7 linked regions of the Homo sapiens genome follow. The protein of the gene in region 4 interacts with the protein of the main gene of each other region in a pairwise test. Each region holds a gene or a part of one and is shown on either strand. Other genes may lie near its edges. The genes, in order: ZNF683, NR4A3, ZNF23, ZNF330, CHIC2, ZNF250 and ZNF460.

The links.
Region 1: the proteins of ZNF330 (region 4) and ZNF683 interact in binary tests that used the Homo sapiens proteins (3 or more experiments, as listed by UniProt).
Region 2: the proteins of ZNF330 (region 4) and NR4A3 interact in binary tests that used the Homo sapiens proteins (3 or more experiments, as listed by UniProt).
Region 3: the proteins of ZNF330 (region 4) and ZNF23 interact in binary tests that used the Homo sapiens proteins (3 or more experiments, as listed by UniProt).
Region 5: the proteins of ZNF330 (region 4) and CHIC2 interact in binary tests that used the Homo sapiens proteins (3 or more experiments, as listed by UniProt).
Region 6: the proteins of ZNF330 (region 4) and ZNF250 interact in binary tests that used the Homo sapiens proteins (3 or more experiments, as listed by UniProt).
Region 7: the proteins of ZNF330 (region 4) and ZNF460 interact in binary tests that used the Homo sapiens proteins (3 or more experiments, as listed by UniProt).

Annotation. Positions count from the first base shown.
Region 1 is NC_000001.11:26,362,751-26,366,250, forward strand, and holds part of ZNF683 (tissue-resident T-cell transcription regulator protein ZNF683), read right to left. Parts: intron 2,477-3,500; coding exon 1,782-2,476; intron 405-1,781; coding exon 276-404; intron 1-275. UniProt on the Homo sapiens protein: Transcription factor that mediates a transcriptional program in various innate and adaptive immune tissue-resident lymphocyte T-cell types such as tissue-resident memory T (Trm), natural killer (trNK) and natural killer T (NKT) cells and negatively regulates gene expression of proteins that promote the egress of tissue-resident T-cell populations from non-lymphoid organs.
Region 2 is NC_000009.12:99,831,885-99,835,384, reverse strand, and holds part of NR4A3 (nuclear receptor subfamily 4 group A member 3), read right to left. Parts: intron 2,697-3,500; coding exon 2,567-2,696; intron 2,104-2,566; coding exon 1,931-2,103; coding exon of another isoform or gene 1,853-1,930; exon of another isoform or gene 1,084-1,852; intron 1-1,083. UniProt on the Homo sapiens protein: Transcriptional activator that binds to regulatory elements in promoter regions in a cell- and response element (target)-specific manner.
Region 3 is NC_000016.10:71,447,097-71,449,672, forward strand, and holds the end of ZNF23 (zinc finger protein 23), read right to left. Parts: coding exon 997-2,576; 3' UTR 501-996; downstream 1-500. UniProt on the Homo sapiens protein: May be involved in transcriptional regulation. May have a role in embryonic development.
Region 4 is NC_000004.12:141,223,895-141,227,394, forward strand, and holds part of ZNF330 (zinc finger protein 330), read left to right. Parts: intron 1-592; coding exon 593-612; intron 613-712; coding exon 713-783; intron 784-2,872; coding exon 2,873-2,952; intron 2,953-3,500.
Region 5 is NC_000004.12:54,016,106-54,019,605, forward strand, and holds part of CHIC2 (cysteine-rich hydrophobic domain-containing protein 2), read right to left. Parts: intron 1-3,500.
Region 6 is NC_000008.11:144,887,954-144,891,453, forward strand, and holds part of ZNF250 (zinc finger protein 250), read right to left. Parts: intron 2,451-3,500; 5' UTR 2,397-2,450; coding exon 2,355-2,396; intron 2,122-2,354; coding exon of another isoform or gene 2,107-2,121; coding exon 1,980-2,106; intron 1,742-1,979; coding exon 1,628-1,741; intron 1-1,627. UniProt on the Homo sapiens protein: May be involved in transcriptional regulation.
Region 7 is NC_000019.10:57,283,485-57,286,984, forward strand, and holds part of ZNF460 (zinc finger protein 460), read left to right. Parts: intron 1-1,066; coding exon 1,067-1,193; intron 1,194-3,500. UniProt on the Homo sapiens protein: May be involved in transcriptional regulation.

The sequences.
Region 1 (3,500 bases), on a different chromosome or scaffold from region 4:
AACTCCTCCAATAACTCAGGGAGGTAGATAATGGGTATACATACACTCTCCATGACCTCCAACTTCATTGTTCTCTCCCTCCTGCAGGCCTTTGGAGTGACCTTCAGTATTACCCATTCCAGGCTGAGAGGAGTCATTTTCAATTTTCACTCCCCCTTCCCATCTCCACTTGCTCAGGAGGACTGGGGAATGGAGGCTGCAGGTGCCAGCCCTCCAAGGGCCTAAAACTCCTCTCCAGCCTATAGGAGTACATAGTAGGGGGAGAAGGATCTCACCGAGCACTTGTGGGGCCGCTCCCCAGTGTGCACCAGGTGGTGCTTCTGCAGGTGGGCAAGTTGAGTGAAGCTCTTCTGGCACAAGGCACACTGGAATGGACGCTCTCCACTGTGCACACGCAGGTGGACCTGAGTCAGATGCGGGATAAATGCTGCCAACTGCCCAGCACCCCTAGCAGGGCCTGAGGTCCTCTCCAAATCTCTGCCCACTTCTCTCTCCCTCCCCGTCATCTCCCTCAGGGCCCATCATCCCCAGGATACTCTACTCTTTCTGCTGCCCTGTAGGGGAGATGGCAGTGGTCAGAAGGCCAGGGGTAAGAGGTACCCCAGGTATATTGTGGAACACTGCTATTCAAAATGTGGTTCACAGACCAGCAGTGCTGGTATCACACTTTGGGAGCATGTTAGAAATGCAGGTTCTCAAGTCCGGCCCCAGACCTGCTGAATCAAAAACTCTGGGAGGGCTGGGCACACTCTCGTGGCTGTAATCCCAGCATTTTGGGAGGCCGAGGAGGGAGGATCAATGGAGCCCAGGAGTTCAATACCAGCCTGAGAAACACATTGGGACCCCGTATGCACAAAAAATTTGAAAGTTAACGAGGAGTGGTGGTGTTTACCCTTCGTCCCAGCTACCGGGGAGGATGAAGTGGGAGAATCCCTTAAGCCCAGGAGTTTGAGACCAGCGTGGGCGACAGAATGAGACTCCATATGGAAAAAAAAAAAAAAAAAAAAGATAACTCTGGGGCTGGGAGCTACTCTGGAGGCTGAGGTGGGAGGATCACAAAAACTCTAGGAATCTGCATGTTTACTAGCTCTCCAGGTGGTCTGAGGCTCATGAAAGTTTAAGAACTCCTGCCCTGCAGGATCCAGCAGGGCTTCTCCCCATAACCACAATGTGCCTTCAACTTCAGAACTAGCCAGAGAGCGCACAGTTTCCGCCCTTTGCTAACGCACTGAGATGCGCTCCCTGGGCGCCCCCTGCTGGGCGATGCGGATGGTGAGGCCAATCGCATCGGCGGTCGCGCAGATTTGTGGGATCCCACTTGAAAAAGGTTGGTCATCGGACTGTGGTCTAGACTCACCAAAATCTACCCATTCCCTCATCTGACTGCCCAAAAAAATAAATAAGAAGCTTAACTTGGAGTCCAGAAAGGATGGTTGTCCAGGTAAGGGCTTTCTTTGCCCAGAGCAAATGTTGAGAGACTAAACCTAACACTACCGTTAAATCGGGGTAATCTTAGGCAAACGCTGCCCATTAAAAGCCTCAGTCTCCCCATTTTAACCTAAATGAGACGATCTCATAGGCAGTCCTCTAGGGTGGCGAGGACTTTGGTGGCCGTCTTATCCGATATCTCCACCCAAATGAACCATCCAAGGTCACTTGGCCCTAGAGGTTGCCCAGGAGTGCCTTCTAGCTTTGAGGTCCTTGCTTCTAGAAGCAGACTCGGGTGCATGGGGGGCCCTGAAGGATGTTGAGGGGAGAAGCAGAGCCCAGGAGGCAGATACCTTGAGATTGGAGAGCTGCCCAAAGCTCTTGCCACATATGTTGCACTCGTACAGGATTTTGCCATTCTTCTTTTTCAGCGGGTAAGGCAAGGCTGCGGTGCCTGTCTGGGAACTCAATGGGACCCGCTTTGCTGGAGATGCCATGCCACCACGCTCCAGGCCTGGGGAGTCGGTTGGGGCAGCTCCAGCACCTGGATTTCGGGCCTGGGAAGGCAGAGCTTGGCCAGAGGCTTGGAAGGCCCCTGGGTAGGGAAGCAGGGTCTCCCACCGAGCGCTGGGGTGCCCCAGCTCATTGACCATCATCAGCAGGCTAGGCATAGCCATGGTGGGGTAGGAGGGGTCTTGGGGCAGCATGAGGAGGTGGGGACATTGGTCAGAAGGTAGGGCCCCATAGGTGAACAGGTGGGGTGGAGGCAGGAGAAGTGGGTATCCAGGGTAGAAGGCGTGGAGGAGAAATGGGAGCTCCTTGGAGATGGAGTTGACAGGGGGACAGGGGCAGAAAGCCAAGGGGCTGGGGCTCTTTCTGTTCTGCAGCGGTGGTGGGGAAGAGCTGTTATGAGAGGAGAAGGCTGGGCAGGGGGCCCCCTCGCCAGCTCTTTCTGGCTGTTTTCCCAGCTTGTCCTTGTTCTGTGGGTACTTGACTGTGAATTTCTTGTCATCGGTGGAGCTGGCCTGCAGCCCTGGTGGCTCGTGCTCTAAGCAGGAAAAGGAAGGCGGTCAGATCCCCACAGTCTGGGGTGAAGTTCTGTCCGCCATCAAACCTGCCCTGCTCGGGGCTGAGAAAGACCTCCAGCCTGCGAGCCTGCTAGCATTTCTGTAGTGCTGAACAATTTCAGGGGGAGAAAGCAGTTCAAGGTCCCTATTAGACACCCAGGTTGAGAAGCCAAGTGGGCAGATGGATAAACTGGGTTGGAGTTTAAAGGAGAGGTCTGAACTGGAGACATAAATCCAGGTGCCATGGGCACAGATAAGATCACATAAGGGTGAGGCTAGATCTGCTATGTCCGAAATGGCAGCCACTGGATGCATGACTAGATTTACATTAATTACAATGATTCTAATAAAAAATGAAGTTCTCAGTTGCACCAGTCACATTTACAGTGCTCAGCAGGTATAGTATTGGACAGCACAGGTATAGAATGTTCCCATTATTGCAGGGAGTTCTACCAAACAGTGCTATTCTAGATAAAGAGTACTAAAATAAAAAACCTGTTAAAAAATAAACTGTCAGCCAGGTGCAGTGGCTCATGCCTATAATCCCAGTGCTTTGGGAGGCTGAGGCAGGAGGATTGCTTAAGCCTAGGAATTTGAGACCAGCCTGGGCAACAAAGCAAAATCCCATCTCTACAAAACAATAAGAAAATTAAGGCTGGGCACGGTGGCTCACGCCTGTAATCCCAGCACTTTGGGAGGCCGAGGCGGGAAGATCACCTGAGGTTGGGAGTTCAAGACCAGCCTGACCAACATGGAGAAACCCCGTCTCTACTAAAAAGGCAAAATTAGCTGGGCATGGTGGCACATGCCTGTAATCCCAGCTACTTGGGAGGCTGAGGCAGAAGATTCACTTGAACCCGGGAGGCAGAGATTGCGGTGAGCCGAGATCATGCCATTGCACTCCAGCCTGGGCAACAAAAGCGAAACTCTGTTTCAAAAAAAAGAAAGAAAGAAAGAAAGAAAATTAGCTGGGTGTTTGTGGCATGTGTCTGTAGTAGTCCCAGC
Region 2 (3,500 bases), on a different chromosome or scaffold from region 4:
CACTTGGCTCTTAATATACTTGGCTCCTAATTCTGTCTCTGCTGCATATTAGTTCAGTGACCTTGGGCAAGTCAGCCCTTTAGCCTCTCCCAGTTTAAATTTCCTTATCTGTGAAATAGAGATCATAATACTTATCTTTAGAGTGTTCTGCATGATACCTAATGTAGTGTTCATGCTCATTAGGACATTGAACAAATGGCAGAGTAAGAAAGTTTGGCCAAGGAAATAACATACAGGGCACTGTGCTAAAGCTTTGACAAGTATAATTGTTAATTAATCTTCACGAACAACCCCAGGAAGTAGATATTACTATTACCCCACAACACAGAGGAGAAAACTGAGGCATCAAAGGGTGTAATCAGTTGCTCAAGGTCACTTAGCTAGTAAAGGACAGTGTTGGGATTTTCATCTAGGCCCGCATGATTCCAAAGAAGCCTAAACTGTTAACTTAGTCTTATTATTCTGCTTTATTCTCTTACACTATTATTTGAGACTTGATTGTAGTCAAGAGCCACTACTTATAATCAGAATAAGAGTCCTCAACCTTTGATGCTAAGGATCTACCATGCTTCTCATATGACGTTTTGTTATCAGGTGCAGAGAGGAGGCTTCGCAGCCTATAATGAGGGTGGGGAAGAGGGAAAGAGGATCACAGCAGGTACACTAATCATTTCTATCAACACTGCAACCTAAGGAGAAGGGCACATAGCAGGGACACACTCACACTGTTTGCCAGCCATTCAGCCAGAAGCTTGAAACACTGATTAGACCTGGGGAGGGCAGTTTGGTAGTAGCCACCAAGACAGATCAACCGACTGGGGGCCTCTGGACTGGTATTTCTTTATCTGAGTGCAAGCTGTGTTTCTAAGGTTTTTTGTTTTTGTTTTTGTTTTTGTTTTCCTTCAAGTAGGAGGGATAATGATTCCTACAATTCATGGTGGTTTAAAGGATTAAATGAGATAATGTACCACAATGTCTAGCATATAGAAACTGCTCAATAATTGTGATTTTTTTTCCTTCTCTTCCCTCTTCATTGAGACCCTGTTTTGCTAGAAGTTTAGTTTTCTAAGTCCTTTAAAGAAATTGCCTTACAGAGCTGTTTATTCATTTGCTCAGGAAATCCTTTCTCATGGTTCTTCTCTGTGTTATCCAAATTTTGAGGAATTTGCAGGGTTCAGACTGATGGGATTTTACTATATCCCATATGAAATAAAAATGTTGATATGTTTTGGTTGACTTAACTATAACAACACCAATCGTCATTTATGGTCTTAAAAACATTTTCACAACCATCATTCTTGTGTGACTGGTGTTCAGAACACCCCTCTGAGGTTAAATATTGTAGCCATTTCCACTGTAGGCAGGAGAGAGCCAAAAGCAGGAACCAGGTGACACAGGCAGGAAGTAGCAGAGGTGGCGTTCCATCCCAGTTCTCCTGACAACTGATGTCACAGCCAGAGCTCGCTTCTCTCCACCAATGGTCTAATCCCTCTGAATAAGCAGCAGGTCAATCAATGCTGATGCAATTGGATAAACTGCTTAGTAATAACTTGAGGCTCACCCAGATGGTTTGAACACAATATGAAAAAAAACAGTAGTCACTTTGTCTAGATCACGAGATAAATCTACAAATTGTAGTTTGTCTGTGCAGATTTTCATTGGCACAACCACCAGGAATCCTGCAACAATGTGTATGACAGGTGCAGCACTGTCAGGGTCACTTGTTAAGGCATTTAGAGATTCAATAAGGCAAAAATTATTTGCTGCAATGGATGCACTGAATTGCTAAATGAAGCGAGAAATATAGAAAAAGTATGAAAACTGTCTAACATGGTGCCAGACACAAAATCATTCAATCAACTCTTATTACTAGTAGCCATAAATAGAGACCCTGATCATTCATTTGAAAGCAGGAAATCATAAAACTTACTCTGGAATAATCAAGATCTCTGGGTGTTGAGTCTGTTAAAGCTCGGACAAGGGCATTCATCATGCAGATTGGAGGAGAAGGTGGAGAGGGCTGAGAAGGTTCCTGTTGTAATGGGCTCTTTGGTTTGGAAGGCAGACGACCTCTCCTCCCTTTCAGACTATCTGTACGGACAACTGATGCCAAAAGAGACAAAGAAAACAATCTTCAAAGATTATGGAATGAACGACCATAAATCGCAAAAAGGAATAAAAACACATTACAGTTGAGCAATCATTAATGAGACCAACCATTTAAAAGTGGTAATAAGTTTGGAATAATATTCACACAATGATTTCATGAGAGTTGAAACAAGCAGCATAAAAGCCACCGATATTTACATTTGGTAATGAATTAGCCCTAAAAGTCTCCTTCTTAAATAGAACAAAGATGTATGTATACAAGTCCTCTGTTAATTTTGAGAAATTAGAATAAATAGTCCTCAGTTATTTTAAAATGTAGATATATATGATAAAAATAAAATGTTGAAAGGAAAAAGGAACTAGAAAAATTCACCATCCCAATGTAAATATTAGCTTTTTTTCACTGATTTCTGATAATATGTATAAGCAAACTGGGTAAAAAGCATTATATCCATACCTTCTTTTACCATTCCAACACTGAGACACTTCTGAAATCGACAGTACTGACATCGGTTTCGACGTCTCTTGTCTACTGGGCAGTTTTTATTTGCCAGGCAAACATATTTTGCATTTTTCTGCACTGTTCTCTGAGAAAATATAATACAAGATAGTCAACTGATAGTTTCTGGAAAGAGGTAGGACCTGACAAGATGTATTTTAATTACAATGTGAAAAGCGACAGTGCAATTCGTATAATTCGATAAATTTAATTTCCTAAAACGCTAGCCTGCAGGAAAAACAATTTTATTAGTGTTAGCTGCTGACAATGAAAATCATCTCGGATTGTTCTAAAGCAAGTCTCAGGAGACACCCAACTCTGAATGATAAAATCATATCTGAAATTACCAGGTCAACATATCATACCTTGGAGAATTAGATTATCTCCACTTTTAATATCCCTTTGGGAACAATTTTCTACTTGTTCCACTCCCCTGATTATTGCTGACCTTATTAAAATAAAATCAAAATTATCTGGGATGTACTTTGTTTGCTATCACTATTGTAAGTCAAATATCACAGTAACTGGCTTTGTTACCCAACAGAGATGAAATCATAAAAACCAAAATCAGGATTTTTCTAATTAAAACATATAGGAAATAATGTTTTAATGCAAAAAAACTAACTTAATCAGCCTGTATAGCTTATTTTATCTTTAAAGACCATATATGATAAACAGTCCATTCCTGATTTTTCAAAGCAAAATCTTAAAAGTAGTTATTACAAATCATTATTATATCCAAGGAAGAAAACAAAAAACCCCAAGGTACAAACGAAAAATGAGACAAAGAAAGATATATGACAGCCATATATTTTCAGTGAAAATTCCTATTAATAGGTCATTTCATAAATGTCTATTGACATAGACACAGTAACCATATTGTAAAAAAAAT
Region 3 (2,576 bases), on a different chromosome or scaffold from region 4:
CTTTAGATATTAATGTTTTAAGAGACAGGGTCTCACTGCCACCCAGGCTGGAGTGCAGTGGTGGTCATAGCTCACTGCAGCCTCGAATTCCTGGAGTCAGGTGATCCTCTTGCCTCAGCCTCCCAAGCAGCAAGGACTGCAGGCACATACCACCACGCCTGGCTTTTATTATTTTTTGTAGCGATGGGATCTTGCTATGTTGCCCATACAGGTCTGGAACTCATGGCCTCACGCAATCTTCCCGTCTCAGCCTCCCAAAGCACTGAGATTACAGGTCTGATCCACCATGCCCAAATACTACACTTTTATATCACAAATTTTACAAAAGTATTTCCCCATTTTGCGCTTTATCTTTTAAACTTTAAAACAAAAACATACAGGAATATTTAGTTTTTGAGTAGTCAATTTATCAGTACATACCCTGTGGATAGTTTCTAGCTTTCATCTAATACTTAGAAAGGTTTTCTCAATTACATGAAAATTAAAAATGTACTCATACCTTTTTCCTTTTTTAAATAAATCTTTATTTTTCATCTTTTCAAAAGTAATACATGCTTGTTGTCAAAAATTAAACAAATAAATTAATGTAGGTAGAGTATCTTTAGTACGGGTTTTCCTATCCAACAACAAGGCTTCTCTCTCTCTCCATTTATTCAAATTTCCTTTGTAAAGTGGCCCTCAGTGAAGACTTAAATTTCTCCATACAAGTCCTCCATAACTGTTTATTTCTAGAAAATCTACTTTTCTTGATGCTGCTGGGAACGAAATCTTTTCATTATATTTTCTAATTCCTGTTGGTACAAAACAAAGCTATTTTTGGATGTTTCTCTTTAACTGGTCATCCTTTCCTGATTTAAACTGAATAGAATAAAAACTGTTTCCATATGAAGACTCTGCCATATTCATGCCCTCTTGGAGGTTTTTCAATGGATGAATCTGATGATACTTGATCCATTTTGGCATTAACCTTAAGAGTTTTCTATATCTTTCTCATTATTAGGATTTTCCTTCACTATGGACACTCTGATGCTGACTGAGCTGGAAGCTAAACCTGAATGCTTTCCCACACACACTACACATATAGGGTTTCTTCCAAGTGTGGACTGTCTGATGTATAATGTAGTCAGAACTAAAGCTGAAGCCTTTGCCACATTCCACACATCTGAAGGGTTTCTCCCCAGTGTGGCTTCTCTGATGCCGAATTAAATGGGCATTAACATGGAAGGCTTTTCCACACTCCTTACACTGAAAGGGTTTCTCTCCTGTATGGATTCTCTGGTGCACAATATAGTTAGAACTACAGCTGAATGCTTTCTCACATTCCATACATTTGAAAGGTTTCTCCCCAGTATGTATCCTCTGATGCCTAGTTAGTTTGGCATTGATACTGAAGGCTTTCCCACATTCCTTACATTGATAGGGCTTTTCTCCAGTATGGATTCGGTGATGATCAAGTAGGTTTCTTTTAGAAGTAAAGCATCTCCCACACTCATTACATTCAAAAGGTTTCTCCCCAGTGTGAATTCTCTGATGCCGCATTAGTTTCCCATTAACGCTGAAGGCCTTTCCACACTCATTACACTCATAGGGCTTCTCCCCAGTGTGAATTCTCAGATGCTGCCGAAATTGGGAGTTACATCTGAAGGCTTTCCCGCATTCATTACACTCATAGGGTTTCTCGCCTGTGTGAATTCTCTGGTGTTGGATTAACTTCCCTTTGACACTGAAGGCTTTTCCACATTCAGTGCATTCATAGGGTTTCTCACCTGTGTGGATTCTCTGATGCTGAATGAGTTTTGTATTATTATTGAAGCCTTTTCCACACTCTTTACACTGATAGGGCTTTTCTCCTGTGTGGATGCTCTGATGCTGCCTAAGCTGGGAGCTGCACCTGAAGCCTTTTCCACATTCATTACATTCATAAGGTTTCTCTCCAGTATGGATTCTCTGATGTTGAATTAATTTTGCATTAACATTGAACGCTTTCCCACAGTCATTACACTCGTAAGGTTTCTCTCCAGTGTGGACTCTCTGATGTGTAATATATGCAGAACTACAGCTGAAGCCATTTCCACATTCCTTGCACTGATAGGGCTTCTCTCCCGTATGGATTCTCTGATGCCTACTTAGGCTTCCATTAACACTGAAGGCCTTCCCACACATCTTACACTGATAGGGCTTCTCCCCACTGTGGATTGTCTGATGTGTGATATAATGGGAACTGTAGCTGAAGCTTTTCCCACACTCCACACATTTGAAGGGTTTCTCCCCACTGTGAAGTCTCTGATGCCAAATTAATTTCTCATTAATGCTGAAAGCTTTGCCACACTCCGAACACTGATAAGGCTTTTCCTCAGTGTTGTTCTCTTGATGTTGAATAAGTTGAGAGTCACACCTAAAGGGCTCTACTAATTCTTCACATTTGAAAGGTCTTTCCTCAGAATTAATTATTTCATGCTTCACGAGTTTTGTATCAAAGCTGATGGATTTCCCCAATCCTGTACACCCAGAGGGCTGCTCTCCAGTGATGGTATGACACTGATATGAGTTTGAACTTTGACTAAAAAAACACTCCT
Region 4 (3,500 bases):
CATGGAGAAGAGAGAATATAAGACATATTTGGAGAATGGCTGACCATTAGTGACTTGAGTCTAAAAAGAATAGGCCAAGAAGGTTTGGAAAGTGATTAGGGGCCAGATTGTGGAGAGCTTTTAAAACCATGTTTAGGAATCTGGATTTTCTGTGAACTTTATTATTTTGTATTCTCTTTGGAACGGTGCCTTAGATAAATGCATTATTTTAAGGGTCACCCACTTCATTTGGAATAATATGTGCTTAACGTTTCATAAGGCTTAGAATGTACTTAACTATCAAAAGGATAGTTCTTGTGTTCATTCTGTGGTATTTTATTCCTTACAAACAATTGAAAAAGAAACTACCAATGTATTTAGCCTCCTTTGTGATAATGCCACTTCTTCAGGGAATCATATACCCGGAGTATCACTCTCGCATACCTTTGTTATTTTAAGCATGGGTAGGTGCTTGTATACATGGGTGGAGTTGGGGCTTTGGTGTAGTGTCACTTAAATTTTAACCTGAAAAGCAGGTTATTCTTTGTAATACAAGTAAATTTGCAGTTTTCAGTCAGCAGAAAAATTAATGTGATATTTTTATATGTTACAGGAATGTGACAAGTGTCAGAGGTAAATTTTATTTCTTTTTCTATCTACCTTTAATAAAATTGTCCCTCTGACTTTTTATCTGACATTGACCATAATTTAAAATTTTATTTTACATGACAAGGCGGCAGAAGAATAGAGCATTTTGCTACTTTTGTAATTCTGTACAGAAGTTACCAATTTGTGCACAGTGTGGTAAGTTTGTAATAATTAAGGACATATGCTTTTTATCAACTGGTAGTTCAACAATTTGAACTTGGGTGGGTTTGTTGCTATTGGTTACAGTGCTTACAATTGTTGATAATATTATGCCTTACCATTAACAAAATAACAAAACATGTTATTTTGCCTACCAAAAAACTATCAAGCCTTGGTTTTGTCTCTTTGATGTAATGCTGGAAAATAATTAAGGTACAATTTAGATACAGGTTACCAATAAGTGTTTTTAAACAGTGAAAGATCAGATTTCAGACATAACATTTGGTGATCCTGAACTTTTAGTTATACTACCTTAGTCTTGTCAGTATCTGTTTGTTTACTTATCTACATTTTGATTCCTGCTGATATTACCTGCAGTGTGTTAGACCATTGGGAATAATTTTATTCCACATTTACCTGGTACTTATTTTGTGATCAGTAGTTTTTGTGTTTGATGCTTACCATATGATTCATGAGTTTCCTCACATGTATTCCCAGGTGATTTAAATAGAGTTCTTAAGTCATGTGCCCGGTTCTTAAGTATAGGTGGAGACTTGTACCCCAAAATGATTATACAAAATAAAACTAAATGTTAGCAAGATGGGTGTTTCCCAAATAGTCTTCCACAGACTTCCTGAAATATTAATGGATATTTCTTGAAAAATATATATCGATATACATTTGAGAAATACTGCATGCATCCTCCTTTCATTCTCATCTGGGAGATTTCTATTATATATTTATATGTTAGAAGTTCTGAAGACTTGCAACAAAGAAACCCAATTAACTTTATTACTCTAGATTTACATCCCCCCCCAACTTTTGATGAACAAGTATTGCTTTTATTTATGAGATAATAATAATAATTTCAGGTAGAACAATTTGGGGTATGCTCATTTAAGTGTGTTTATATGTAATAATATTCCAGAAAGTTAGTAGTGTTTAGGGCTATATCCCTGAATATTTCTAATGTAGTTCTAGCTTTCAAAGAAGATCTTTTCAATTCCACAATTAATGAAAAAGAGAAAACTGGCCTATATGGAACACTCATATGGTAGTTTTCATAGCCTTGTTTTGCAAAAAGTAATGAATGTAGAGTGAGGAAACAGAGTTTGTGGAAGATTAATAGGTAAGTTCTTGCTAGGACTTACCCCTATTTTCAGTGTCTCTGGGCTTAAATTTTGTAGTGTTGTTAGATGGATACATTTCTCATTTACTGATTCTTAGTGTTGGACATGGAACAGTTGGGTAGCTGCTGCCTCTCATTTCCAGTTTCTCTTCCCATTTCCTACTAACTTTGTTCCTTAGGAAATCAAGATAACGGAAAATTGTTTCTTTTGTGTTCCATTTTGTGGAGTCTCAGATGGATGATTAATGTCATCATTAACTCTCACATAATATCTGATAAGCAAATTTCCTGATAGTGTTTTGAGTTGGTAATTTAATTTGCTTCTAGATCAGAGGTTTAGTGGCTGTGTGGTGATTTGTAGCTGTATCACCGTATTGTTTATTGTGCTTATTTGGGCACTATTTCAAAATTTTGTTGGGAAAATGTTTAACTGGGGGCTTCGTTGTAAATTTTTATGTTTGGATAAAATTACATTAACTCGATAAGTTACATAATCATTATTTGGTTTGGTTTGAGGTATTATTCTGTGGAAAGAAATAACTTCAAACCACAGTTTTTATTGTGAATTATAAAATGTAAAATTTGTTATAAAAAGCATTCCTTTAAAAATTGTTTTGAATAATCTGAAGATTGATAAGTTTTTAAACTGTTAAAATGATCATTAGATTACAAAGCATAACCTGCAATTTCTGATTTAGTACAAATTAGCATATATATTGTATAGTTCATTTTACAGATTTATTAGTAAATGTATAATCTGAAAAGTCTGATTCGAGTAATGAAGTCTCAGTTATATCCATTTTCTCTTTCTAGTTATGTAAGCAGTAAATACTGATTCAATTTCATTAGTTTTTAAATTATTTCCTCAGGAACTTGGGCTGGATAAAAGGAGGAATTCGTGAGTACTGGTATGTATTCCTTTGCAAGACTAACAGTGCAAATGTTTTTCTTCATTAGGGAAAACAAAGTGCATGATGAAGTCTTCAGACTGTGTCATAAAGCATGCTGGTGTATACAGTACTGGCCTTGCAATGGTGGTAAGCTTCTTATTATCTCTTAGACTAGTACGTTTTCAAGGATAAGAAAATGTCATTCTGATCAGTGGTTATTTTTTTCTAAATATCATTGCTTTGTCCCTTGTTTCAATCAATCTGTAGTTATCTGGATTATGAGTGGCATGCTTTTTGTATGATTTTCCCTTAGTACCCACTTGTTTCTAGCTGCTTCTTTCTTTCTTATTAGGGAACATACAAGGCATGGAAACTTTTCATGCTGATCTAAACAGAATTTCATTTCTCAGTGGTACCTTTTTTTTTTTAAATTTTATTATTATTATTATACTTTAAGTTTTAGGGTACATGTGCACAACATGCAGGTTTGTTACATATGTATACATGTGCCATGTTGGTGTGGTGCACCCATTAACTCGTCATTTAGCATTAGGTATATCTCCTAATGCTATCCCTCCCCCATCCCCCCACCCCACAACAGTCCCCGGTTTGTGGTGTGTGATGTTCCCCTTCCTGTGTCCATGTGTTCTCATTGTTCAGTTCCCACCTATGAGTGAGAACATGCGGTGTTTGGT
Region 5 (3,500 bases), about 87 Mb from region 4:
GATGATTTTGGGGGTGGGTGGATGATGAAAGAACTAGAGCAGAACAAGTTTTCCAAGCCCACTGTTTTATATTAATGTATAAAATAGTACCCAAAAGCTTAATACTACATTCTGCAAATACTTATTACTTAAAGAAAAAAATGTAGTTACCACCATCATTTCATCAGAAGTTTAAACCCATGCTATAATAAGAATAGATCTCATTATGATATATAGACACATACATACACACAATTTTAAAACTTAAAAATATTTACTTTAACTTAAATCAACTACTAGTATTTGAATAAAAGATAATTACAAAGTATAAATCTTGAATTCCAAAATATTTAAGTAGGAATTCTGAATTTCTTCTCTGTTTATAATTAGGAGTTTAATGATAGGGCTTGGTATAATAATTGTATCTTACAATATTTAAGAATTATAAAACAAACAAGCCCTGATATGCCACATTCTGAATAAGCATATAAATATAAAATATTTCTACACACTTCACAGTCTGAAGTAAAAGCTGTGAATTAGCACCATCTAATTTTGCTATAAGACTTCTTTCCTGCTTGACAGGTGAAAAAAAAAGCACTTGCACGTGCAGCTTAATTAATCATTGCACTTGACATCTCAATGATTTACAGTGAGGAGCAGGTGAGAACATACAAAACCAGAAAGGAACCCTTGATTTGAGTGGAACATTTCTAGCACACTAAGGTGACAAGTATATAGATTCTAGCAGTCATTTAAAAAAAAAAGGAAAGAAACTGTGCCACAAATTATTTGTTAGTAACAACAAAAGCTCAAATTAAATAGAAAAAAAAAAGGTTGAGCTACTGAGAATGTTTAATACTATGCAATTATTGTTAGTTAAGAAAATCAAAATATATTTTCAAGATTAAATACAATACCAATTTGGCAGATACTAAAAAAAATGACACTTCAGCATTTATAAAAGCTACTTAAAAGCTTTTAAAAGAAAGCACTTTATAATTGTAGTCATCTAGATAAAAGTTAAAGAGTTTATGTCCACAAGGCTGTCAGGTAGCTATTTCTAATGAAATGTAAGATTCAACAGTGTCGAACTCTACACTTGCTAACTGTGGACAAGCAAATCTAATCATATAACAACCTGTCCTTGGTTTTTAAATGTTTATTTCAACTCCAAATTCAAAACAAGCTGAAGCAAATTAACATGCATCAGAAAAAAATATGTATGGGATCTGTCAACATGAAACAAAGTACCAAAAAACACCATCTTTCAGTATTCCAGGCCAGTTTCTAAAAAAATAAGTCATCTTTAATTTTCTTTAAGAGAATTTAGTGCTTGTGAAAAGCACCAGATTGATAGTCATGGGAACTAAAAATCTATTTAGCTGAAAGAACAGGGGAAGGGGCAGTGCAGGCTTTAGTGTAAGCTTCCCTACAGTGGGCCTTAATCCTTTTCACTGCTCACACCCTGGGGGTGAGGGGACAGGTTAGCGGTTCTTTACCAATGTAATTCTCCGTCTTTCTGCAAAAGATGATCAACAAGAAATGTAATTTTATCAAGTATTCTTATCTTTAATTAAAAGGACCAAGACCACCAACTCACAATATGCAGGAAAAACAACTTTTTTGTGTGAATGGCGTCATGTTACTAACCTGGTCTGGAAGTAGACAGCTCCAAGCATCTGGATCCCACCCATCTCCCTCAGCTCACTTTAAATAACCCTTTTTCTTTAAAAAAACAAAAACAAAAACAAAAACAAAACACACATTTCTTCATTTCCACACCTTAGTGGTTATATTTTTCTCATTGGTGAACTAGTTTTAATACAGCCATTCAGCTTTGTGAAAGTAAAAATTAACAGGAGATTTAAAAAATATCATTTCAATTACTGAATAGGTATTAAACAGACTTAAGTTGAGCAACAAGTAGTAGTAACATAAGAATAGAAATTTTGGCTTCTATTTATATTGCCTTTGGTCCCTTTTAGATTTTTGGTAGAATTGTGAAAATAGGAAAAACATGAAAACGGAAAGAGAACTAAAAGGGCCTCAGTAATTCATAAAATGGCTAATATGGTAATGATTAATCAGCAATATTAGATAAGACATACCCAAATAAGACATACCTTCCAAAGAAGCATCTAAAGTAAGCTTATAACAGCAAAGCACACATACACCTAGACAAACTCAATTACTGCAATAGAAAACTAAGATTTCCTGAAAATTCAAATTTGAATTATTATGTATTTTTGTAATTTTTCCTAAATACTGTAACTTTCTTAGGAATAAATTATTAATATTATTCCCTATAAACAAATTAAATGCCATTAGATATAAATTAGTCTTCCAGGACAGCAAAGAGCCATTTAGAAAATCTTTAAGGTATTAATCTCCTACTTTGCCACCACTGGTTACTTAAGAGTTTCCTAATTCCCAATGACTCATTTAATCACAATCAATTGTTTGAAAACATGGTTTTACAAAGAAGTGGTTTTCTAGACATTACTAATAAAACCAATGGAAATCTCATAAATTTTAGAGTATTGAGAGCTAAAGAAAAAAAATGTTAAGTGTAGAAACTGTAACAAAGTTTATCTTAATATTTCCCAATAAAATAGTATTATCAGTCTTTAGAACAAAAATATGCTATGATATGCTAATAAAATGTACAGAATACTCACTAATAACTATTTATAAAAGTTCACCTATTTAAACCTATAATTAAAATGTATTTGAATTGGATTTATTCATACCATCACAAAATGGGAAAGCAAAATTTCAAATGTTCAATTCCCTACTTAAATTTTAAACTCTTAAATCTATAATGCATTAATTAACCTTTAACTAAAATGTTTTGAATATATTCATAATCTTGTTTTTAACTTATATTTTTCAAATAAGAATGCTATTCATCTTTAGACATCTGTGTAAATTGAATTTGTTAAGTAAAACAATGTCTTTAGCTGTAAGTTATTAGGGAGAAACCATATATAATTTAAAATGAATTATTTTAACATAAGAGAACTTAAGAGGAAATTATATTATTCACTTCTGCTCATTCTGGATTAATATGAAATTTTATATTCCAGTGATGTGCAGAAAATTAAATAATTATATCACAGTATTATGCTACGTGAAAAGCCTAGATTCACCAAAAAACAAAAAAAAACTAGAATATGATTTCTCAAAAGGATTTTTAAACAAATTCCTTTCCTGTACATTAAAGCACCTTTTAAAATTTTAATATGAACATTAACTTTTAAATAATCTAGATATATTAAAACACCCACTGAAGTATCATGTGCTATTTGTTAAAAGTAATATTTTTAGATAGAAATACGCTAAAAAAAATTGCTAAAATTTTGTGAATCAAAAATATCCTCTAGTACTGAGCAGTGTCTTAATAGGTGCTAATCTTAAACAGAATTTCATCAAGTTTACGATCTAGGCTAGTGAGAGAATATTAACTTGTTTAGGTTATACTGGTTATGAATTATGAAAGATAGGGATTCTCTCTCTGC
Region 6 (3,500 bases), on a different chromosome or scaffold from region 4:
GGGAAAACCACCACATCTGAAATGCTGAAGCTGATCAGCCAATGGAGGTGTTGCCCAAACTGTCCCTACTCTCCCCAAGTGGGGCACATTATGGCAGGACAGGCTGACTGAGGTTTTCCTAAGACTCAGACGTCACCTTACTGAAGTCAGAGGTTCTTTGCCTTAAGCAACCGCAAACATGAACTTCAGGGTTGGATCTATGCACCATCTTTCTTTTTATAATTTTCTCCATCTAAAGGTCTTGTACATCTTTTGTTAGATTAATTCTTGGATGCTTTATATTCCTGATGCTATTATAAATGTTATCTTTTAAAATATTACACCTTTGCTGGTTGCTGACAAATATAAATAAAACATTTCTGGCCAGGTGCAGTGGCTCATGCCTGTAATACCAGCACTTTGGGAGGCTGAGGCAGGTGGATCACTTCAGGTCAGGAGTTCGAGACTAGCCTGGCCAACATGGTGAAATCCTGTCTCTACTAAAAATACAAAAATTAGCTGGGTATAGGGGCATGGACCTGTAATCCCAGCTATTCGAGAAGCTGAGGCGTAAGAATTGCTTGAACCCAGACGGCGGAGCTTGCAGTGACCCGAGACTCATGCCACTGCATTCCAGCCTGGGCGACAGAGCAAGACTGTCTCAAAAAAAAAAAAAAAAAAAAAAAAATTGTATCCAGCAAAACTGGTAATTTCCCTTGTGAATTTTAATCAATCATTTTCCAGGTTGACAATCACATAAACTGCAAACAATGCTTTTTTCTTTCTAATTCTTATAGCTTTGGTTTTGCCTTATTTTTATTTTTATTTTTTTGAGACAGAGTCTCATGCTCTGTCCCCCAGGCTGGAGTGCAGTGGAGCGATCTCAGCTCACTGCAACCTCTGCCTCCCGGGTTCACGCCATGAATCTGGGAGTAGCTGGGACTACAGGCCTCAGCCTCCCGAGTAGCTGGGACTACAGGTGCATGCCACCATGCCCGGCTAATTTTTTGTATTTTTAGTAGAGACAGGGTTTCACCGTGTTAGCCAGGATGGTCTTGATCTCCTGACCTCGTGATCCACCCGCCTCAGTCTCCCAAAGTGCTGGTATTACAGGCTTGAGCCACCACGCCTGGCCGGTTTTGCCTTATTTTGTACATGGGATACCCAGTACAACATTATATGGACATGGGGATGGCGGGCTTCTTTGTCTTGTTCTGAGATGAAACAGTGTGCTTTCAGCACTTCACCTTAAGTGTCAGGTTGAGACACTTCCTTTCCACATTTAGGATGCTTTGTTATTTTCTAAATCATCAGGTAACTCTCAAAACCTGAATGTCCTATTAGGACCAAATCTGGCTAACCAGTCCCTCTGGTCAGGGACAGAATCACTGCAGCCATGCCCTAACTTCCTCTACATGGCTCTGCACATCAGCTTGTTGAAATTCACTGCTATGCTCACTTCCAGCCATGGGCTGCCACCTGATTCAGCAACCCCCAGTCTATAGACTCCTTTGCCAGATAAGGCCAGATAAGGTTTTACTCCAGGTGGAAGCCACTCCAGTGAGCGGCACAGTATGAACTAGGTCCACAGCTTTGCTCAGGACCTGTTTAGCCCTCAGTGAGGGAGGGGCCAGCTCTCCTCACTCACCTGAGTAGTCACTCCACAGGCCCTGGCTCTTCTTAGCCCCCTTCCTGTCCAGGACCCAGGGATCTTCCCCTCGCTCCAGCTGGGAGATTATGTCAGGCTTGGATCCTGGAAGTCCTGCTCGTGGGGAGGGAAGTCTTTGTTTACACAACATTTACAGAGCCCCCTCCCCCTGCCCAAGCCACTTGTGGGGACATGAAAATGGACAGGACTGATCTTCTGCTGGAGCTGAGCACCCAGAGAGGTGATGAGAGCAAACCTCCAGGACCAGCCTGTCCCAGGCCCCGTACCCTGAGAAGCCCCCACCCCAGTCCAATACGCAGATACATAGACGAGGCCTGCTAAGGTGGCTTACCCAATGAGACTACATTCCCATAGGTTTCCATCATCACATTTCTGTAGAGACCCCTCTGAGCAGGGCACAGGCGGTCCCATTCATCCTGGGAGAGGAGCACAGCCACATCCTCGAAGGTCAGCTTGGCCTGGAACGACAGGGGCTGCTGCAGGTAAAACCAAATCCTGATGTCTGTGATGGGGAGTGGGTGCATGTGACATGTGACATGAGCAGTTGGCAGTGGGGGGCTCTGTGAGCTGAGGTGGGTGATGGGAAGGGGCCGCGGAGTTCAGGGCATGTGGTGACGCTCTGGCTGCTCTTAGGAGCTCTACGGGGCACGGAAGGAACCACAGGGCTCGGGCTGGGGGCACTGCATAAGCACTGGGGACAGCTTACCTGGGGTCCTGCCGGCACTGGCAGGAGTCTGGCTGCTGCCATCACCTGGTCTCCTGGGGACTCCGAGGATCACGGAAATTGAAGGAGCCTATGGGGCTGAGGAAGAGGAGGGGGCAAGTGAGGGGCATGGCCTTGAGACCGTAACTTCCTAGGGGGCCCTCAGGGGATCCCTGGGCCTCATTCAGAGTCACTGAGGGGCACACTGAGGTCAGGTGCAAGGAGCTGCTACTGTTGCAGCCTTGGTCTGCCTTGCCTCCCCCATGAACTCTGACCCTATGGTTCAGGAGCCTGTCCAGGCCCTGAACACACAGTTCCTGGGCCTGCCCAGCTAGTACTGGGCTCTCTGAACACCAGGTGCAAGGCACTTGCTGCACCCTGGTCCCGGCCCATGGTCCTGCCATACACAAGGATACCAGCTCACCAAGGCTCTGTGTGTTCTATACCTGAGGCCCTCACACAAGTACCAGACTGTCCGCAAGTCATGTGGGGGATACAGGCATCAGGCCAAGCTGCTTCCCCAAACACCCTCCCAATTAAGAAAGCCTTGGCCACCAGGGTGACAATAAGACTCCCCTCACCCCACCCTTAGGCAGCCCTAGTGCCCCAATGTGGCACCAGGTTCAACCAGGTATTTGAAGGGGAGGCATGGAAGTGGTCAGTTCTGGACAAACTGAGTCAACAGTGGCCTAGGGATCTGGTCTGAGCAGCTGAAGGAAGACTTGTCATCAAGTGAGAAGGGGATGCTTGGGGTAGTGGGGCTGGTGCTGGAACGTAACAGGACAAGGTAAGCAAAGGTATCTGACACACACCCAAACAGCTGGGAAAAAGGGGGAGCGGGGCAAGAGCTTTCCTGACACATTTGGTCCTGTACAGGATAGGGTTCGCAGTCTTCTGGAGCATCAAAAAGAAGATACTGTGACAGGGATACAGAAACCAACCAGGTGACCAAAGGTGGTAGATCACTCCAGAAAAACGTGGTATAACAAAGCAACCAATCCCCTCACATGCTTGGCTCAGATGGGCACCACAACAAACAGGGTGCTTTAAGAGTGACAAAATAGGTGTCAGGGCTGGGGGCAGAAGTCAAGGGACATCATAATCTCAGTGTCTATAAAACATCAGATATAGGTGGGCGCGGTGGCTCAT
Region 7 (3,500 bases), on a different chromosome or scaffold from region 4:
TAGTTCTTTTGACTATTCTTTTTTTTTTTTTTTTTTTTTTTTGAGACAGAGGCTCGCTCTGTTCTGGAGTACAGTGACACAGTCTTGGCTTACTGCAACCTCTGCCTCCCAGGTTCAAGCGATTCTCCTGCCTCAGCCTCCCTAGTAGCTGGGATTGCAGGCTTGTGCCACCACACCTGGCTAATTTTTGTATTTTTAGTAGAGATGGGGTCTCACCATGTTGGCCAGGCTTGTCTCGAATTCCTGACCTCAGGTAATTCATGTGCCTCAGCCTCCCAGAGTGCTGGGATTACAGGCATGAACCACCGTGCCCAGCCTTGACTATTCTTGATGAAGTGGGAAACACGGTTATATTGACCTGGAAATGGAGGCTCGGCGAAATGAAATGAGGTCCCCAAGGTCACATAGCAGGCACACGTTGATTTCAGGAATTTGGTTTTAAACCTCAGGAGTCTGGCTCCTGAGCTGGGGAGTTTCAGTCACTTTACCATGGCATGTAAACCTGTCAGCATGAGGCAGGCACACAGGGAGGATTGGTAAGACTCAGATACTGTTCCTGTTATTGTTGCTGGTGGTGATGTTTTTATTATTATTATTTCCCATTCCTCTAATATGTCAGAGCACTTACTGTCTGTGCCTCTCAGTCCACTTGGGATTGTCCTAACCTTATTTCTGTGTTAAGTTCAAGTGGCTTCCTGCCTAGGAGGCTTTATTTATTTATTTATTTATTTATTTTTTATTTATTTATTTATTTTTTTTTGAGACAGAGTCTTGCTCTGTTGCCAGGCTGGAGTGCAGTGGCACGATCTCAGCTCACTGCAATCTCCGCCTCCCAGGTTCAAGCAGTTCTCCTGCCTCAGCCGCTTCTGTCTCCTCTTCACTGCTGTAATCCATGCAAGGCAGTGTCCACATTCCCCTTGATCCTAGCACAGATCTTGGCCCTTTGGAGGTGCTTGGTGATTTGGCCTTTGATTCTCTGTGCATCTTTTGCAGTGCTGGAGTGACAGGTTCTAATCCTATTCCACAGTTGCAAAGGAAACATTACTGGTTCTTTTTGACTTTTCAGGAGTCTGTGACCTTCGAGGATGTGGCTGTGACATTTACCCAGGAGGAGTGGGGGCAGTTGGACGTGACCCAGAGGGCCTTGTACGTGGAGGTGATGCTGGAGACCTGTGGGCTTCTGGTCGCACTGGGTAAGGCCTGTCCTCTCCTCTCCAAAATCAGGGGCACCAGAAAGCAGCTTCATTCTAGCCTTCATCCTGGCTCCAGGCCTGGCTAGTGGAATAGGTCTTGGGAGCCAGCCCTCCTGTTTCCCAAAGCTTTACTCTATTTTTTTTTTTTTTTTTTTGGAGACAGAGTTTCGCTCTTGTTGCCCAGGCTGGAGTGAAATGGCGTGACCTTGGCTCACCACAACCTCCGTCTCCCCGATTCAAGTGATTCTCCTGCCTCAGCCTCCAGAGTAGCTGGGATTACAGGCATGTGCTCCCATGCCCAGCTAATTTTGTATTTTTAGTAGAGAAGGGGTTTCTCCATGTTGGTCAGGCTGTTCTCAAACTCCCGACCTCAAGTGATCCACCCACCTCAGCCTCTCAAAGTGCTGGGATTACAGGCATGAGCTACCACGCCCAGCCTCATTTTTTTGACTCACCTTATTCTTCCTGATCTCTTTGTGTCTTACTTAGAAAGGGTTGGCTACGAAATATAGTTTGCTTTTGGTCACAGCCAAAGGAGAGGGATGTGTTACCAGGAAATGGGATGTTTTGTAGAACCCAAAGGCAGGATTTGCAGCCAGGCCCCCCTGTGGCACTAATACTGGTTGTCTGGTGCTGGCTTCCCTTTATGGGTCTGCTCCTGTCACTGTCTTTTTATAATGGCTTTTTCTGGCTCAGCTATTGTGTGGAACGAAGTGACCGTCTAGTCTTGTTCTCTGAGGCTCACACATTCCTTGGCACTACTACTTCCTGCATATTTTTGTTGTCTCTCTGTTGATACTCTTCTCACTTAATTCTCCCAGCATCCCCATCGTCAGTGAGTAAGGATAATAGGGCCATTGCAATGAACACCTCAGAAACTTAATTAATTCAGTTTAAGAGATAAACCTTCATTGTGAGATGCTGTTCGTTGCATTTTTTTTCTTGGTAAAGGTTCTTTCTTTTGTGATGTGTTGATTTTGATGTTTGTGCAAACGTCTATATGTGGCCAAATCGCTATTTGGAGTTCCCTCCCAGTTTTTTATTTTTCAGTGGTTCATGAAATGTCGAAGCGTGGAGTCACCACGTCTACCCCTCACTCTGCTGCCCTGTTCCCTTAGGATTGAGTTCTTCCACTCATGTCTCCCATTCTTTATGGCCTCCTTGTTTTGAGACTCCTGGCACCACACGGGGGTGTTCTTCATTTCCTCTGAGCACAGCACTTGGGAGACCAAGGTCTGATGCCTCAGAGTCCAATTCCAGCTCTACTTTTTGTCAGCTGTGTGTTCCTGGGCAAAGTACTGAACTCCTCTGTGCCTTAATTTTCTTTTTAGAATTTTTTATTTCTTTATACCCATGCCAGTGCAGAAAAGTGCCTCAATTTTCTCATGGGTAAAATGGGACAATATGTGCCAAAAAAGGCATACGTTTGTTTCATTGTACTTTGCTTTACTGCACCTTGCAGTTACTGTATTTTTAGAAGTTGAATGTTTGTGGCAACCCTGAATTGAGCAAGTCTGTCCCGCACCATTTTTCCAACAGCATGTGCTCACTTTTTGTCTGTGTCACGTTTTGGTAATTCTTGCAGTATTTCAAATATTTTTATTAATATTATATCTACTGTGGTGGTCTGCGATCAGTGGTGTTTGATGTTACTATTGTAATTGCTATGGGGCACCATGAACTGCACCATGTAAGACAGCTTTATCAATAAATGTTATGTGTGTTCTGACTGCTCCACTTACTGGCCATTCCCTCTCTGTCTCTCTCCTTGGGCTTCCATATTCTCTGAGATACAACAATAATGCAGTCAAGTCAATTAATAACACTAAAATGGAAGCCAGATGCCTCTAATCCCAGCTACTCCGGAGGCTGAGATGGGAGGATTGCTTCAGGCCAGGAGTTCGAGACTAGGCTTGGCATCATAATAAGACTCCATCTTTTTTTACTTTTTGAATAAGCTATAACTCATATGCTGTGTTGTGCAAAAATCCTAAGAAGTCCAGGCCAGGAGTGGTGGCTCACACCTGTAATCCCAGCACTTTGGGAGGCTGAGGCGGGTGGATCTCCTGAGGTCAGGAGTTTGAGACCAGCCTGGCCAACATGGCGAAACCCCGTCTCTACTAAAAATACAAAACAATTAGCCAGGCGTGGCGGTACACACCTGTAATCCCAGCTACTCGGGAGGCTGAGGCAGGCGAATCGCTTGAACTCAGGAGGCAGAGGTTGCAGTGAGCCGAGATCGTGCCACTGCACTCCAGTCTGGGCGAAGAAGGAGACTCTGTCTCAAAAAAAAAAAAAAAAAAAAGT